4 linked regions of the Homo sapiens genome follow. The protein of the gene in region 2 purifies or fractionates together with the protein of the main gene of each other region. This does not show direct contact. Each region holds a gene or a part of one and is shown on either strand. Other genes may lie near its edges.

The links. The genes of interacting proteins can lie anywhere in the genome.
Region 1: the proteins of KLC4 (region 2) and OSBPL5 purify together in Homo sapiens (affinity purification with mass spectrometry; one large-scale study listed by BioGRID and IntAct). This does not show direct contact.
Region 3: the proteins of KLC4 (region 2) and OAS1 purify together in Homo sapiens (co-immunoprecipitation; one large-scale study listed by IntAct). This does not show direct contact.
Region 4: the proteins of KLC4 (region 2) and MCM3AP purify together in Homo sapiens (affinity purification with mass spectrometry; one large-scale study listed by BioGRID and IntAct). This does not show direct contact.

What each region holds. Positions count from the first base shown.
Region 1 is NC_000011.10:3,158,811-3,162,310, reverse strand, and holds part of OSBPL5 (oxysterol-binding protein-related protein 5), read left to right. Parts: exon of another isoform or gene 1-1,393; intron 1,394-3,500. UniProt on the Homo sapiens protein: Lipid transporter involved in lipid countertransport between the endoplasmic reticulum and the plasma membrane: specifically exchanges phosphatidylserine with phosphatidylinositol 4-phosphate (PI4P), delivering phosphatidylserine to the plasma membrane in exchange for PI4P, which is degraded by the SAC1/SACM1L phosphatase in the endoplasmic reticulum.
Region 2 is NC_000006.12:43,062,631-43,066,130, forward strand, and holds part of KLC4 (kinesin light chain 4), read left to right. Parts: intron 1-286; coding exon 287-517; intron 518-2,989; coding exon 2,990-3,071; intron 3,072-3,500.
Region 3 is NC_000012.12:112,905,566-112,909,761, forward strand, and holds the start of OAS1 (2'-5'-oligoadenylate synthase 1), read left to right. Parts: upstream 1-1,396; 5' UTR 1,397-1,474; coding exon 1,475-1,654; intron 1,655-2,970; coding exon 2,971-3,259; intron 3,260-4,196.
Region 4 is NC_000021.9:46,268,612-46,272,111, reverse strand, and holds part of MCM3AP (germinal-center associated nuclear protein), read left to right. Parts: intron 1-1,548; coding exon 1,549-1,711; intron 1,712-3,500.

The DNA of each region.
Region 1 (3,500 bases), on a different chromosome or scaffold from region 2:
AAATGCTTTGCTCGGCCTCCCAGCCCACCTCACATCCGGCTACTCCCTCCAGGGCTGGCCTCCACTCCCCTCCTGGCCCTACCAGCTCTTGCCTGGAGCTCCACATCAGCTACCTAGTAGGCTCCCCTTTCGTGGCCTTCCTAGCCCTTCTCCAGCCAGCAGCCAGCATGGTGTTTAAAAAGATAAACCACTTCATGTAATTTGACCACTTAGAGCCCTTTGAGATTTGCCATGGGTCTCAGTAAGTCCTGACCCCTTTCCAGACCCCACAGGCCCTAGATGCCCCTCCACTCTGTCTCCCTTCCCTTGTTCTCCTCTCCCCCTCCCCTCCCCTCCCTCTCCCCTCCTTGCTCACAGGGGTCTGGCGTCAGCCCCGGCTTCTTACTCCAGGGCCTTTGCACTGCCTGTGCCTCTGCTTTCGGCCCCTCCTTGGATCTGCATTTGGTGGGCTCCATCTAATTCAGGTCCCAGCTCAGATGCTGCCTCTCTGAGAGAGTCTCTGTTCCTGGCCCGTTACCCATTCCAAAGCAGCTCTCAGCTCTGTGTTTTGTTTTCTCTTTATTTATACTGAAATGGTCATGTTTGTTTAATTGAATGGCTTCCTATGGAGAAAGCGATTGGGCCAAGCCAGGTTCATGGTGGGCGCCGCTGGTGCGTGGCATCTGTCCCTGGTGGGTGCCGCTGGTGCGCGGTGTCTGTCCCCATGCACGGTTGCCTGCAAGTCTGCTCCGGGCTCTCTTCCCAGGGGCTGGCACACAGTAGGTGTTCTACGGTTAAGTGAGGCACATGTGGAAAGCCGTCATACTGTCTCATCCCAGGGAGGTCAGTAGATTGAGACTGGCTGCCCCCATCTAGCAAGTCCCACCCACCATGTCCTGGTTTCACCAGCATCGGCTGGTGTGGGACGTGACCAGCTCATTTCCTCCATGCTCTAGGATGGGAAGGACAAGAGGGCGTGACTCTTCCCAGAGTCCCATCATCTCTGATTTAGGAATGGAGCCCTTAGGGTGTCTCACCTCCTCGGGATGCCTAATAGTGTGTTTGGTGAATGCAGATGGACTTAACTGGTCCATAGATCCCCTCTCACCCTGCTGACACGAAGACAAGGATGAAGGGGAAAGTTGAGGCTCAACAACTGAACAGTATTCCTTCTAAATATGTACATTCTTAGGGATTTTAAGTGGAAAACAGGGAGGAGATTTGAGGGATACCCCACCTCGGCAGGCAGCTGGTCAGGCTGCCTGTTGTGACCAGCCTGGGGTCGCCTTCCCTTCATCCAAGGCCAGGGGAGATGGCAAACCTTCAGTAAGCGCTGCCGTACCTGGCAGAGCAGAAGCACCACCCCAGCTTGGAGACAGCATGCCCCTGACTGCTGGTCACGGATGGCCCCTTGGTAAGTGCCCTGTGCTTCTGAGCAAGGCGGGAACGGGCCTCCAGACGCTGGGGGACAGCACAGAGGGAGCTCTGTCGCCCGTGCCTTTGTCCCTTCTCTCGCTGGCCCATTCTCAGCTGCTTCCTCGCGGGGAAGGGCCTTCCTCGGCCAGGGGAGGGAGAGCTCAGTATCCCGGCGTTGCGGAGGGATTGATGTGCTATTGGGGTGAATACGGCGCTCGGTGTGGGGGCGGGGTGGGGGGGGGGAGGGTTGTCATTTAAAGGGGACTTTGGGGATGGTCAGCAGAGGAAGGCGTGGTGTTGGGGCGGAGCATCCGCATCTCCGCGCCCCTTTCCTGGCAGCCAGCGGGATTTCTCCTGATCAGCTATTGCGGCGAATAAGACAGAGTCAACTAAAGGGCGCGCCGCTGTGGGTCCCATTCGCTGGGCTGCGGCTCCAGGCAACGGCATTTGTATGCCCGCCTATTAGGGTGAATGCGACGCGGGGAGTGTGGGTCGCTTAAAGGGCCGGGACTCTGGAAGCAGTGCGTCCCGCTCCTGCCCGCCTATTGCGGTGAATACGGCGCAGCAGTCGGGTTGTTTAAAGGGTCCAGGCGTCCTGCTTGCTGGACTGTGCTGCTTTGGGGCAGCTCCTGGTCCTGGGCGGGAGGGGAGCACTTTAGGGAGGCTCCCCACATTGGCCAGAGGGAGAGGAGCCCCGACGCTGGCCCGTGGGGCAGGAACGCTAGATGCCCTCCTTACAGGATGAACCTCACCCCCACCCCACCCCCTGCTGCCTTAGGAAGTCACCCAAATTTAGCAAAATTCAAGCCAGAGCCAGCAGGCACCAGGGTGGGGCATGTGACCCTGTTCTGGAGGGCTGGTGGGGCCAGGGCAGGGAGGGGGCTGGGCCTAAGAGATTGATGGTGGTGATGGTGGCAGGCACCGCCTCGGATCTGATCAGAAGGCCTAGCCGAGGAAGACGCAGCCGGAATTCTTCACCCCAGGTGCCAGGGTCAGCAGAGTTTATTTGCCTCCTAAACCTTGGTTACCCCGTCTGTAAAGTGAGGCTCATGGCTGGCCCTAGATGGTCTTTGTACACAAGCGCTGGGTGAGCATCAGCCATTGTGTGGGTGACTGGCATGACCCCCTACCCCACCCCTATGGGCTGCCAGTCAAAGGTTTCCACCCTCCAGCCACCATCTCCCTGACTCAGATAGTCCTGGGCCACCCCACCCAGCCGTGGCCCTGGCCCTCCCCAGGTGCACCCTGTCTCTGCCGGCAGACCCTCCACCTCTCTAGCCCTCTCCTCTGCTCCTGAACTTGGCATTGGTCCCAGGCTGCCCTGAGCTGTCTCAGGGGACTCCTGACCTGTGAAGGGGCAGCGAGTCCATGGGAAGCAGTTGGCCTGGGCTCTTTGAGGCTGCTGTCCTCACCTGTAGAGCAGGGACCATAGTACATGGTGTCCCTGAGTGCAGCGGATCCAGTTAGTGGCCTGGCACAGGGCCAGGGAGAACTGGAATGCCTTAGTGTCTGGCCTGCACACTCCCTACCAGCGAGCACTTTGTGGGTTAGGTACCAGGCCTCGTTACCCTGAGGCTGGGGTGCTGTGGACGGGGTGCTGGGACTTAGCATTAATGCTCAAAGACGAGCTACAGAGGTAGTGAGATCCCCCAGCCCCAGGGACACCTGAGAGTTCTACCTCTTCCCCGCGCCCGCCTCAAGAACATACCTGTCTCCTGGGCAGAAACCGACCCTCATGTTTCATTCTCTGTGGCCTCAGGGTGCGTGCACACTCTCGCCTGTGCCCTCAACCTGCTGTCCCTTGTGTTCAGAGGGTGGCTGGCCCGAGGGCTCACAGCATCTGACAGGCTCCCCTCTGAGACGGAGGAAATGGGGCCCCAAGAATGGCAGGGTCGTGGTGCTGCTCCTCGCTGGGCTTCAGTTTCTCCATCTTTAAGGCACCCCCATCCCTGACATTTGCCCGCAACCCCCACACCTGCGGGGCTAAGGCTCCTGCACACGGGCAACACCCCGGCAGGAACCGAGAAGGGAACTTGGACATCCAGAGCTCCCTCTTCACTCCCGAGGCCCTGGCTTCTCCAAGGGCTTCTGTCCATCTGCTCCTG
Region 2 (3,500 bases):
GGTTACAAATAGACAATAGGGGAACAAGGGCAGAAACGAGGCCAGTGAGGAAGTTATTGTAATAATTTGGGTAGGAATTGATAGTGGCTTGGTCCAGGGTGACAGCAGTGGAGGTAGTGGGAAATTGGATTCAGGGTATGTTTTGAAGGTAGCACCACTGCTACACCCCCACCTTCTGGCTCCTCTGTGCCCCTGCCAGTCTTGCCACGTCCCAGTAGGCTCCCCTTCCACCTGTTCCTGAATACTCCCACCCAGAATCTGGAGCTCAGGGGATGTGCCCACCTAGGTGATGCTGGCTCTAGCCAGCCACCTGAGCACAGTGGAGTCGGAGAAACAGAAGCTGCGGGCTCAGGTGCGGCGGCTATGCCAGGAGAACCAGTGGCTGCGGGATGAGCTGGCTGGCACCCAGCAGCGGCTACAGCGCAGTGAACAGGCTGTGGCTCAGCTGGAGGAGGAAAAGAAGCACCTGGAGTTCCTGGGGCAGCTGCGGCAGTATGATGAGGATGGACATACCTCGGTGAGTGTGCACAGGCGAGACTGGCTGAGGGGTGGGCAGCCGGGAGTTACCACAGACATGGGGGCAATTGCCCCATCATCCTCAGGGTCCATCAGCTCTACCCAACCTGCTCTCACCTGAAAGAATTCCTTTTTCAGCCCTGACACCAACTCCAGGTGACAGCAAGGGGAAAAACAATATTCAGGTAATTCAGTCAACATTTAATGAGATGCCTACTGTGTACCAGGCATTGTGCACTGCACTGGTGAATGGGGCACACAGAGTTCCTGCTCTCACAATTACAAGCTTGTGAGGGAGATAGATAAGCACCTGGACAATTCCAATCCAGAATTCTACGTGGTACAATTAGGGAAAGCATAACCCAGTTGAGCATGACCCTCCTAAAATTTGCTTTCAAAATGTGTGAATTTTTTTTTTTTTTTTGAGACGGAGTTTCACACTTGTTGCCTAGGCTGGAGTGCAATGGTGCAATCTCAGGTCACAGCAACCTCCGCCTCCCGGGTTCAAGCAATTCTCCTGCCTCAGCCTCTTGAGTAGCTAGGATTGCAGGCACCTGCCACCACGCCTGGCTAATTTTTGTATTTTTACTAGAGACGGGGTTTCACCATGTTGGCCAGGCTGGTTTTGAACTCCTGACCTCAGGTGGTCTGCCCGCCTGGGCCTCCCAAAGTGCTGGGATTACAGGTGTGAGCTACCATGCCCGGTCCAAAATGTGTGAAATTTAACCCTCGCTCAACAGAATGCAGTGATGCCATCTCAGCTCACTGCAGCCTCCGCCTCTGGCTTTCAAACAATTCTTGGGCCTCAGCCACCCAAGTAGCTGGGATTACAGGTGTCTGCCACCACACCCGGCTAATGTTTGTATTTTTAGTAGAGATGGAGCTTTGCCATGTTGACCAGGCTGGTCTCAAACTCCTAGCCTCAAGTGATCTGCCTGCCCTCGGCCTCCCAAAATGCTGGGATTACAGGCGTGAGCCACCACGCCTGGCTGAGAGTGTGTGTTTTCTTGAGATGTATCTGTAGGGAACAAGTCTTATCCAGGAGAACATATATGTGACAAAATACAAAGCAGCAAGTGCTCAGTGCTGGATGAGTGGTTCAGTCAGTGTGGGAAGAATTTCACAGAGAAATGTCTCTGAGGGCTGGAATGGTCTAAGAAGAATTCATAGAGGAAGCAGGGAGCCTGGGCAACATAGTGAGACCCTGTCTCCACAAAAAATTAAAAAATTAGCCTGATGTGGTCGTGTGCACCTATAGCCTCAGCTACTCTGGAGGCTGAGGTGGGAGGATCGCTTGAGCCCAGGAGGTGGAAGCTGCAGTGAGCTGTGATTATGCCACTGCATTCTAGCCTGGGCTGTTGCCAGACTAGAGACTCTGTCTCAAAAAACAAACAAAAAAATAGAGGAAGCAGGATACAGGGATGGGTAGGATATAGGTTGGATTTCCCATTTGAGTGGGTTAGGAGTTGAGATGGATTTTGAAAGTTCATGATGAGGAAGAGGGAGCAGCTTTTTAGACTGGAGTGCAGGGTGTCATTGATAAGGCTTACAGCCTGGAAAAGCTGGTCTGTCCCAGGGAAAGTGAGTAGATGAATTGCATAGGACACATTGGTGAAGCTGGGTAGGAGGGTTGGTGTTTGGATGAGGCTGCAGTTCCTGATGGGGAAAAGCAGATTTTCCTAGTGCGGAATAGGTTAGACAGTGAGGGAGGGTTACGTAGTAAGTCCAGAATGAGCTGTGCAGATGATGGGCACCAGGCTGAGCTAGACACTTTCTGGGTACATGTCAATAAGATCGGCCACACTCCCTTCCCTCAGGAGAGACAGGACAGACATACAATCAACGTAAACACACAGAGATCAGCATAGGGCCATAATTACAAGAGTTAAGGCAAGATTGAGGGTGGTTAGAAAGGAAACTTTTTTTTTTCTTTTTTTTTTGTTTTGAGACAGAGTTTCGCTCTTGTTGCCCAGGCTGGAGTGCAATGGCATGATCTCGGCTCACCGCAACCTCTGCCTCCCAGGTTCAAGCGATTCTCCTGCCTCAGCCTCATGAGTAGCTGGGATTATAGGCATGCGCCACCACGCCCGGCTAATTTTGTATTTCTAGTAGAGATGGGGTTTCTCCACGTTGGTCAGGATGGTCTTGAACTCCTGACCTCAGGTGATCTGCCCACCTCGGCCTCCCAAAGTGCTGGGATTACAGGCGTTAGCCACCACACCCGGCCAGGAAGGAAACTTTCTGTATGAGAAGGAGGGGAAGTCTTGAGATTTTGTCCAAAGCATCTCTGGCTGTTACAAACAAGAGGCCTGAGCTTGGCTGGGCCACTTGCTAGCCTTTCCAGGGGCAGAGACAGGAACAACAGTCTTCTCCTAGGTCCCATCTGTCTGTGATTTCATGGCTTAGAGGGGTCACTGAGAAGGCTACTAGGTAGGGATATCTTGGCCCTTATATGTTGCTTCTTCCCTTCCAGGAGGAGAAAGAAGGCGATGCCACCAAGGATTCCCTGGATGACCTCTTTCCTAATGAGGAGGAAGAGGACCCCAGCAATGGCTGTGAGTCTGCCTCTGGAATGGGAGGGTGAAAAGGGGCAGCAGGAGGCTGGCCCTAGCTGTGGCCCACCCTGTACACAGGACAGTCACCATCTAGAAATAGGTTCTCCACTTTCTCTGGAGACAGGGCAGGGGCTGGGCTAGTACTTCGATTTCCTCAGCCTCCCCATTGAACGAACATGTATTAAGCACTGAATATGTGCCAGGTACTGTGCTAGGCACTAGGAGTACTGAGATGGAAATGGCATAGGTCTTACCAGTAAGGAGTTCACAGTCTAGTGGGAGAATAAACCTGAGACAGGGAGACCATGAGCCCCCCAAGGGAAAGAACCAGGTCTTTCTTACCTTTGTACTCCTGGAACATCCCTTGGTTCATACTTATTAAATAAATGTTTGTTGAATGCATGAATTACTGGGTGAACAACTGAGGTT
Region 3 (4,196 bases), on a different chromosome or scaffold from region 2:
AACTCTTGCAGGGCAGGGGAGCCCCAAAACTGGGACACCGTCCGGGAAGGCTCTTGGCTTCGTCCAGGAAGGAATTCAAGGGTGAGCTAGAGGAGGAAGAAAAAGGTTTATTGAGGCAGCAGGGTTACAGTTCTGTGACTGTCCCTGCAGAGCAGGGCCACCCCATAGGCAGTGCCTGGAGAGCAGCAGCTCAGGGCACTTCTATAGTCACATTCATACCCACTTTTAAATACGTGCAAATTAAGGGCAGGTTATTCAGAAATTTCTAGAAGAAGGGTGGTAACTGGGTCATTGCCAGGGAATGAGTAAACTGTTCATGGTGCTGGTGCTCATGCCAGCCAGTCTTCAATCTGGCCCTGAGTCAAGCCCCACCTCCTATCTCAAAACTATTCTGCATGGTGCTGTAATGGTGGATACATGACATGTTATGTTTGGCAAAATCCATAGAACTGTAGGACACAAGAGTGAACCTTAATGTAAACCTTAATGTAAATGGACTTTTGTTAATTATGATGTATTAATATCAATTCATCAATTGTAACAAATGTATCACAGTACTGTTAATAATAGAGGAACTTATTGGCAGGAGAGAGAGCTTATGGAACTCTCTGCACATTCAGCTCAATATTTCTGTAAGCCTAAAACTGCTGTGAGAAATAAAATCCAACCTGGGCAACATAGCAAGACCTTGTCTCTACAAAAAATAAAAAATGAGCTGGGTGCAGTAACGCATGCCTGTAGTCCCAGGTATTCAGGAGGCTGGGGCAGGAGGATCCCTTGAACCCAGGAAGTTGAGGTTGCACGAGTCATGATCATGCCCCTGCACTCCAGCCTGGATAACAAAGCAAGATCCTGTCTCCAAAAAATAATAAAATAAAATAAAAATCTACTAATTGAAAGGGAAAAAAGCATAGTATAATACCATTCTTAACAAAAAGAAAAGAGACCTGTGTTTGTGTGTGTGTTAACATTTGAAAAAAATCTGGAAAGCTCTATATCAAAACGTTTATAGAGGCAATTTTGTAGTGTTAGAATCATAGATGATCTTTCCACTTCCTGGTTTTTCTGACTTTTTTTCTTTTTGCAGTGGGCATGTATTGCTGGAAAATACCACAGACAACTGTGAAAGGATTTCATCAACAACAAAAAAAAGATAAAGAAGGAAACACAAAATCTGTTAAATAAGATTTATGTTGGCTGGAGGTTAAAATGCATTTCCAGAGCAGAGTTCAGAGAAAGGCTGGGCTGCTTGTTGCTGGCTAAAGGACAAAGGGTAAGTTTCAGGAAGCAGAAGAGTGAGCAGATGAAATTCAGCACTGGGATCAGGGGAGTGTCTGATTTGCAAAAGGAAAGTGCAAAGACAGCTCCTCCCTTCTGAGGAAACGAAACCAACAGCAGTCCAAGCTCAGTCAGCAGAAGAGATAAAAGCAAACAGGTCTGGGAGGCAGTTCTGTTGCCACTCTCTCTCCTGTCAATGATGGATCTCAGAAATACCCCAGCCAAATCTCTGGACAAGTTCATTGAAGACTATCTCTTGCCAGACACGTGTTTCCGCATGCAAATCAACCATGCCATTGACATCATCTGTGGGTTCCTGAAGGAAAGGTGCTTCCGAGGTAGCTCCTACCCTGTGTGTGTGTCCAAGGTGGTAAAGGTGAGTCCAGGCCTGCCTGGCCAGGGGAGGGGTGGCTGAATGTGCAAGAGTTGAGATTGAGAATGAGAGAGAGAGAGAGAGAGAAGCAAAAACCTAGAACCCAGGGTGCAAATGTGAGTACAGAGAGCTGAGATCTTCTGGGATGGTGGTTTCTTATTTATCCACACAGCATGTTAAAATAGATTCTGGGGTGAAATCCTACATCCCTATTATTAACAAGTGACCCTCCCCCCTACTTCCCGCTGAAGTTTATGAACCACTGTCCTGGGCGATGCCCATTTCAGAAATAGGGAACTGAATCCCAGCTCTGGTAAACAGTTTGCTAATTCGTGGCCAGGCTAGGGGCTCACCATTTCTGCAGTGAAGAATCATATGTTTTGAAAGCAAATAGCACCTGCTGGCTGCAAGACCTTGAGCAAGTCACTTAACTACTCTGTGTTCCAATTTCCTCAGCCATAATCCCCAATACTGTTGCAGTCTTGCCAGTGCACCTTAATGTAGCAGCTTCTCACTGAATTAGTACCCAAGGTTCTTTGTCCTGCATCCAAGAAAATTAAGGAACATGGACACAAACGTGAGCTTGGAGCAAAAGTTCAGTAAGCAAAAGAAGAAAGCTGTCTCCACTGTGGAGAGGGAAGTCTGAGTGGATTGCCAGATTGCAGCTGAATGCAAAAAACTTTTATAAGAAACCACTCTCCTCCCTGTAACTGTTTGAGAAACTTTTTATCAGTAAAGCTGTGCAACTTCCCTTACCTTATGCAGCTGTGGGTATATCTCTAGGCAAGCATAAAGCGCTGCTTCTCTTGTATGTATAACTGTGGATTTGTTTTAGGTAAGTCCCACTCCCTGCGCCAGTTTCAGGCAGGCCGCTCCTCCAGGGCCCAGCCTTGACCATTTACCTAACTGATTTTTCCTCTACTTTCCCTCAATACCTCATAGGGCCGTGTAGATTAAGTAAAATAGTAAGTGTGAACCACCCAGCATAAGCTAGTCCTGGGCATCGTAAAGGACAATGGGAAAAGAACACAGATCCTGGAAGAAGGCCCCCAGGTTTGAATTGTATTTGCCACCTACTAGCTGGGTGATGGGGCTGATATATTATCTCACTGAGCATCCATTTTCCCATCTGTAAAATGGGAACTAATGATAATGGCATCCAAATCATAGCATCATTGTGAGCATTATAGGAGTTTAAGACATGCAATGCCTTCAGAACAGTGGCTAGTGCTCCATAATGTTAGTGATTGCTCCTGTCATTTTATTTAGGGAGGTTTGCCTCACTAAGCATCAATTATTATTTTTGTCGTCTTTTTCAGGGTGGCTCCTCAGGCAAGGGCACCACCCTCAGAGGCCGATCTGACGCTGACCTGGTTGTCTTCCTCAGTCCTCTCACCACTTTTCAGGATCAGTTAAATCGCCGGGGAGAGTTCATCCAGGAAATTAGGAGACAGCTGGAAGCCTGTCAAAGAGAGAGAGCATTTTCCGTGAAGTTTGAGGTCCAGGCTCCACGCTGGGGCAACCCCCGTGCGCTCAGCTTCGTACTGAGTTCGCTCCAGCTCGGGGAGGGGGTGGAGTTCGATGTGCTGCCTGCCTTTGATGCCCTGGGTGAGAGCTCCCAGCTTCTTTTTCTCCCTCTTCCCATTTCTGAGCAGAAATCTCCCACAGTTTGAGAGCTTTTTGCCCCAACAGGGCATCTCTCTAAAGCAGGGTGGGAGGAGATCTTAGGATCTGTCCCGGGGCAAGAATGAATACGGTCATGATCTATCACAGGAGAGACATTAAACAGCAAATTGGCATAATGTGGGGACAAAGACATTTCTTACAGAACATCTGCAAGGCTTACTGGTTCTGTTTAAGGCAAAATGTGTGAATTTTATCTTTCTAAAATCAGGCAGCAAAGATGTGGCTTAAAGTTCATGTTACTCTCATCTTTGTCCCAACATGAGATCTCATCAAACGTATGCAGCACGTTGGGAGATAGATATTTATAATTTGCAGGAACATTTGGACAGGAAGTGTAACCTCTCAGAGGCTCCCTTGCCACATCAGGAGAATTGGTAAAACCACACTACCTGTATCATATCATTATTTTAAGTGATAAATGATCATCTACATTCAGCTCTGATGAGTAATAGGTGTTCAAAAATAGGAACTTCCAGCCAAGTGTGGTGGCTCATGCTTGTAATTCCAACACTTTTGGAGGCTGAGGCAGGAGGGTCGCTTGAGCCCAGGAGTTCAAGACCAGCCTGGGCAGCAAAGTGAAACCTCATCTCTACTAAAAATTTTAAAACATTAGCCAAGTGTGGTGGTACATGCCTGTGGTCGCAGTTATTCAGGACGCTGAGACTGAACGATCACATGAGGCCAGCCAAGGATTCGAGGTGTCAGTGAGCCACGAATGTACCACTGCACTCCATCCTAGGCACAGAGCAAGAGCAAGACCCTGTCTCAATCAATCAGTCAATCAGTCAAAACTATGAATTTCCCAGCTGTATATGAAGGCACCTCAAAACACCACAGTGAACTCACAGAGGGACACGGA
Region 4 (3,500 bases), on a different chromosome or scaffold from region 2:
TGTAAAACCCTGGTCTGATCCATAATTAGTCACTTACATGCGAAGTCTGGCGAGCTCTCTGGCCCTCTGCTTGTGGTGGACCCTCTGCTTGTGGTTAAGCTGGACTTATGGTGGACAGTGTCCCCTTTAGTTCTAAGAATCCCCTATCAATGGTGAACCTCTTTTTTTTTTCTTTGTATTTTCCTCAAGAACTGTGTGACAGAATATCTAGATGTGTGGTTGATTTTAATTTTTTATTTCATTTTATTTTTGAGACCGAGTCCTGCTCTGTTGCCCAGGCCGGAGTACAGTAGTGCGATCTTGGCTCACTGCAACCTCCACCTCCTGGGTTCAAGCGATTCTCTTGCCTCAGTCTCCTGAGTAGCTGGGATTACAGGCACATACCACCATGCCCGCCTCATTTTTTTGTATTTTTAGTAGAGACAGGGTTTCACCATGTTGGCCAGGCTTGTCCGGAACTCCTGACCTCAGGTGATCCACCTGCCTCGGCCTCCCAAAGTGCTGGGATTACAGTTAGAGTCTCCATGCCCGGCTGATTTTAAATTTTAAAATTAAGCCTTGTATAGCCTGGGCAACATGGTGAGACCCTTCCACAAAAATGAATAAATAAATAAAATTAACCAGGTGTGGTGATGTGTGCCTGTAGTTCCAGCGACTGGGGAGGCTGAGGTGGGAGGATCCCTTGAGCCCAGGAGGTCAAGGCTGCAGTAAGCTGTGATCATGCCACTGTCCTCCAGTCTGGGTGACAAAGCAAGACCCTATCTCTTAAAAAAAAAAAAAAAAAACCCAGGTGTGGTGGCCCATGGCCTGTTATCACAGCACTTTGGGAGGCCGAGATGAGAGGGTTGCTTGAGGCCAGGAGGTTGAAGCTGCAATGAACTGTGATTGTGCCAGTGCACTCCAGCCTGGGTGATAGAGCAAGTACTCTGTCTCAAAAAAAAAAAAAATTAAACTGGTTATGAAAGATTGCTGTATTGTCTTTTTCTACGTGACAAGCATTTGTTCTCCATCACGAATAATTCAGTCAAAATCAATTCATTTCTAAACAAAAAGAGTTAAGTTTTCTGTTTTTTAGACTTTACCATCCAGCACAGCTGACAGTCCATTGGCATTACTTTAAAGTAACTTTTTGATAACTGATTCCTAAATTGCTTTTTGAATTTGTTTATTCTATTCATTATTGTTTTGAAGGAAACCTTTGTCAAACCAATCCAAGCGTGGTAGTTAGTAAACTATGAATTTAACGGCACATTTCACCAGTAAGACCCTCCTTCTCAGTATGGTTGAAATCCAGTATCATTATTACTTGAGACAGGGTCTTGCTCTGTCACCCAGGCTGGAGTACAGTGATGCGATCACAGCTCACTGCAGCCTCAACCTCCTGGGCTCAAACGATCCTCCCACCTTGGCCTCCCCACGTTTTGGGATTACAGGTGTGAGCCACTGCATCTGGCCAGTGAAATCTATTATTTATCAGATCTATCTTCATGAAAATTTTGTCTTATTTAAAATAACATTCCAACCCCTTTTCTCTCCTTTAATTAACAGAGAAGTACAACAGTTCCATCCTGCTGTTAGAAACTCATCTGAGGTGAAATTTGCTGTTCAGGCTTTTGCTGCATTGAACAGTAATAATTTTGTGAGATTTTTCAAACTGGTCCAGTCAGCTTCTTACCTGAACGCTTGTCTTTTACACTGTTACTTCAGTCAGGTGAGTAAATGAGCTGTGCTTGCAGAGTTGGAAGAAAGCAGGTGGTTCTTGTGCTGTTTGGGTGCTTTCTTATTCCAAGCTTTTCAAAGGAGGTCTCAGGCTGATGCTGTGTCACCCTTGCAGCAGCCCCACGAAGGGGTTACCGGTGTTGCCCTGTTTTATAGGGGTTATCACTGTTGGTCACCATCCGGAAAGGCTGTGCAATGGAAAATACTGTTCCATGGTTCAAATAAGAAAAATCTCTTTGGGAAAACATAGGTTGAATTCAGCACTATCATCATCCATGAAAGCTAACTAAAAAGCAAAAATCTCATATCATATGCACAAAATCTCTGACTTTGAAATGCTTCATGTTTTAAATCGAAGTTTCTGGAGTGAGGCTGATGGCGCTAAGTTCCTTTCAGTGGGTGCCTCAGTGTCTGTGCTTTGCCGTGTGCTAGGGTTGCAGAGGCAATGGGAAGGCCAGTCCCTCCCCTGGGGTTTGCGCAGAGTAAACTGTGTCTTGGGGTTTCCAGTCGGTTATTTTGTTCCACTTCCACGGAACTTGGGGATGAGGACAGAGCAGCCCCTGTAGCACCTGCTGTTCTAGGCCCTGCATGATTCCGTTCAGTGCAATGTGACCAGGACCGCGGCCCACCGCACAGAGCGCCACCTCACCTCGCACACACTCTGCTGCCCATTCTGGCAGCGGCTCCAAGGAGGCTGCCAGGATTCCTTGCCACAAGCCCGTAGTGGCCACAGCGTGGGGAGGATGCTGCCTGGGAGATCCTGGGACCTGCCTTGGTTGATCTGTGGCTCCAGGTCATTTCTTTGGTCACACATCAGGGCCTCCTGTAAACAGTGACTAAACCCACAGTCATGTCACAGTCAGAAGGTCTTTTGCAGGTTTGCTCCTTGTCAGATCTGCAGGTTGCCAAACAGAACTGATATTCTGGAGTAAATGAAAAGGTTTTCCACAACTTGCCACTTGTAGTTAATATTGGCTGGGTGCTTTGGCTCACACCTGTTATCCTGGCACCTTGGCAAACTTGGGAGGTGGGAAAATTGCTTGAGCTCAGGAGTTCAAGGCCAGCCTGGGCAACATAGGGAGGCCCTGTCTCTACTAAAAATAAAAAAAAAGCCAGGCAGGTGTGGTGGGATGCTCCTGTAGTCCCAGCTACTCAGGAGGCTGAGGTGGGAGGATCGCTTGAGCCCAGGAAGTTGAGGCTGCAGTGAGCCAAGATCTGCACTCTCCAGCCTGGGCAACAGAGGCCCTCTCAAAAAAAATAAACAAAAATAAAACATAGTTAATGTTGTATACACGATGATTGAGCGTTAGTAGAATGTTGACCATTTTTAATAACTTTATTTATTTATTTATTTAGAGATGGAGTCTCGCTCTGTTGCCCAGGCTGGAGTGCAGTGGCATGATCTCTGCTCACCGCAACTTCTGCCTCCTGGGTTCAAGTGATTCTCCTGCCTGAGCCTCCCTCCCCAGTAGCTGGGACTACAGGAGCCCGCCACCACGCCCAGCTAACTTAGTAGAGATGGGATTTCGCCATGCTGGCCAGGCTGATCTCGAACTCCTAGCCTCAGGTGATCCACCCACCTCGGCCTCCCAAAGTGCTGGGATTACAGGCATGAACCACCTTGCCTGGCCGTTTTTAATAACTTTAAACAAAAGAGATATTCGGGTATTTTTCTTTAGAAAAGCTCTTCACCGGCAGTGGCGCACAGAGGCAGCCTCCTGTCCCCGCAGCCCTGTGCACTCCTGCTCAGAGGCTTTGTGCTTGCTGTTTCCACTGCTGTT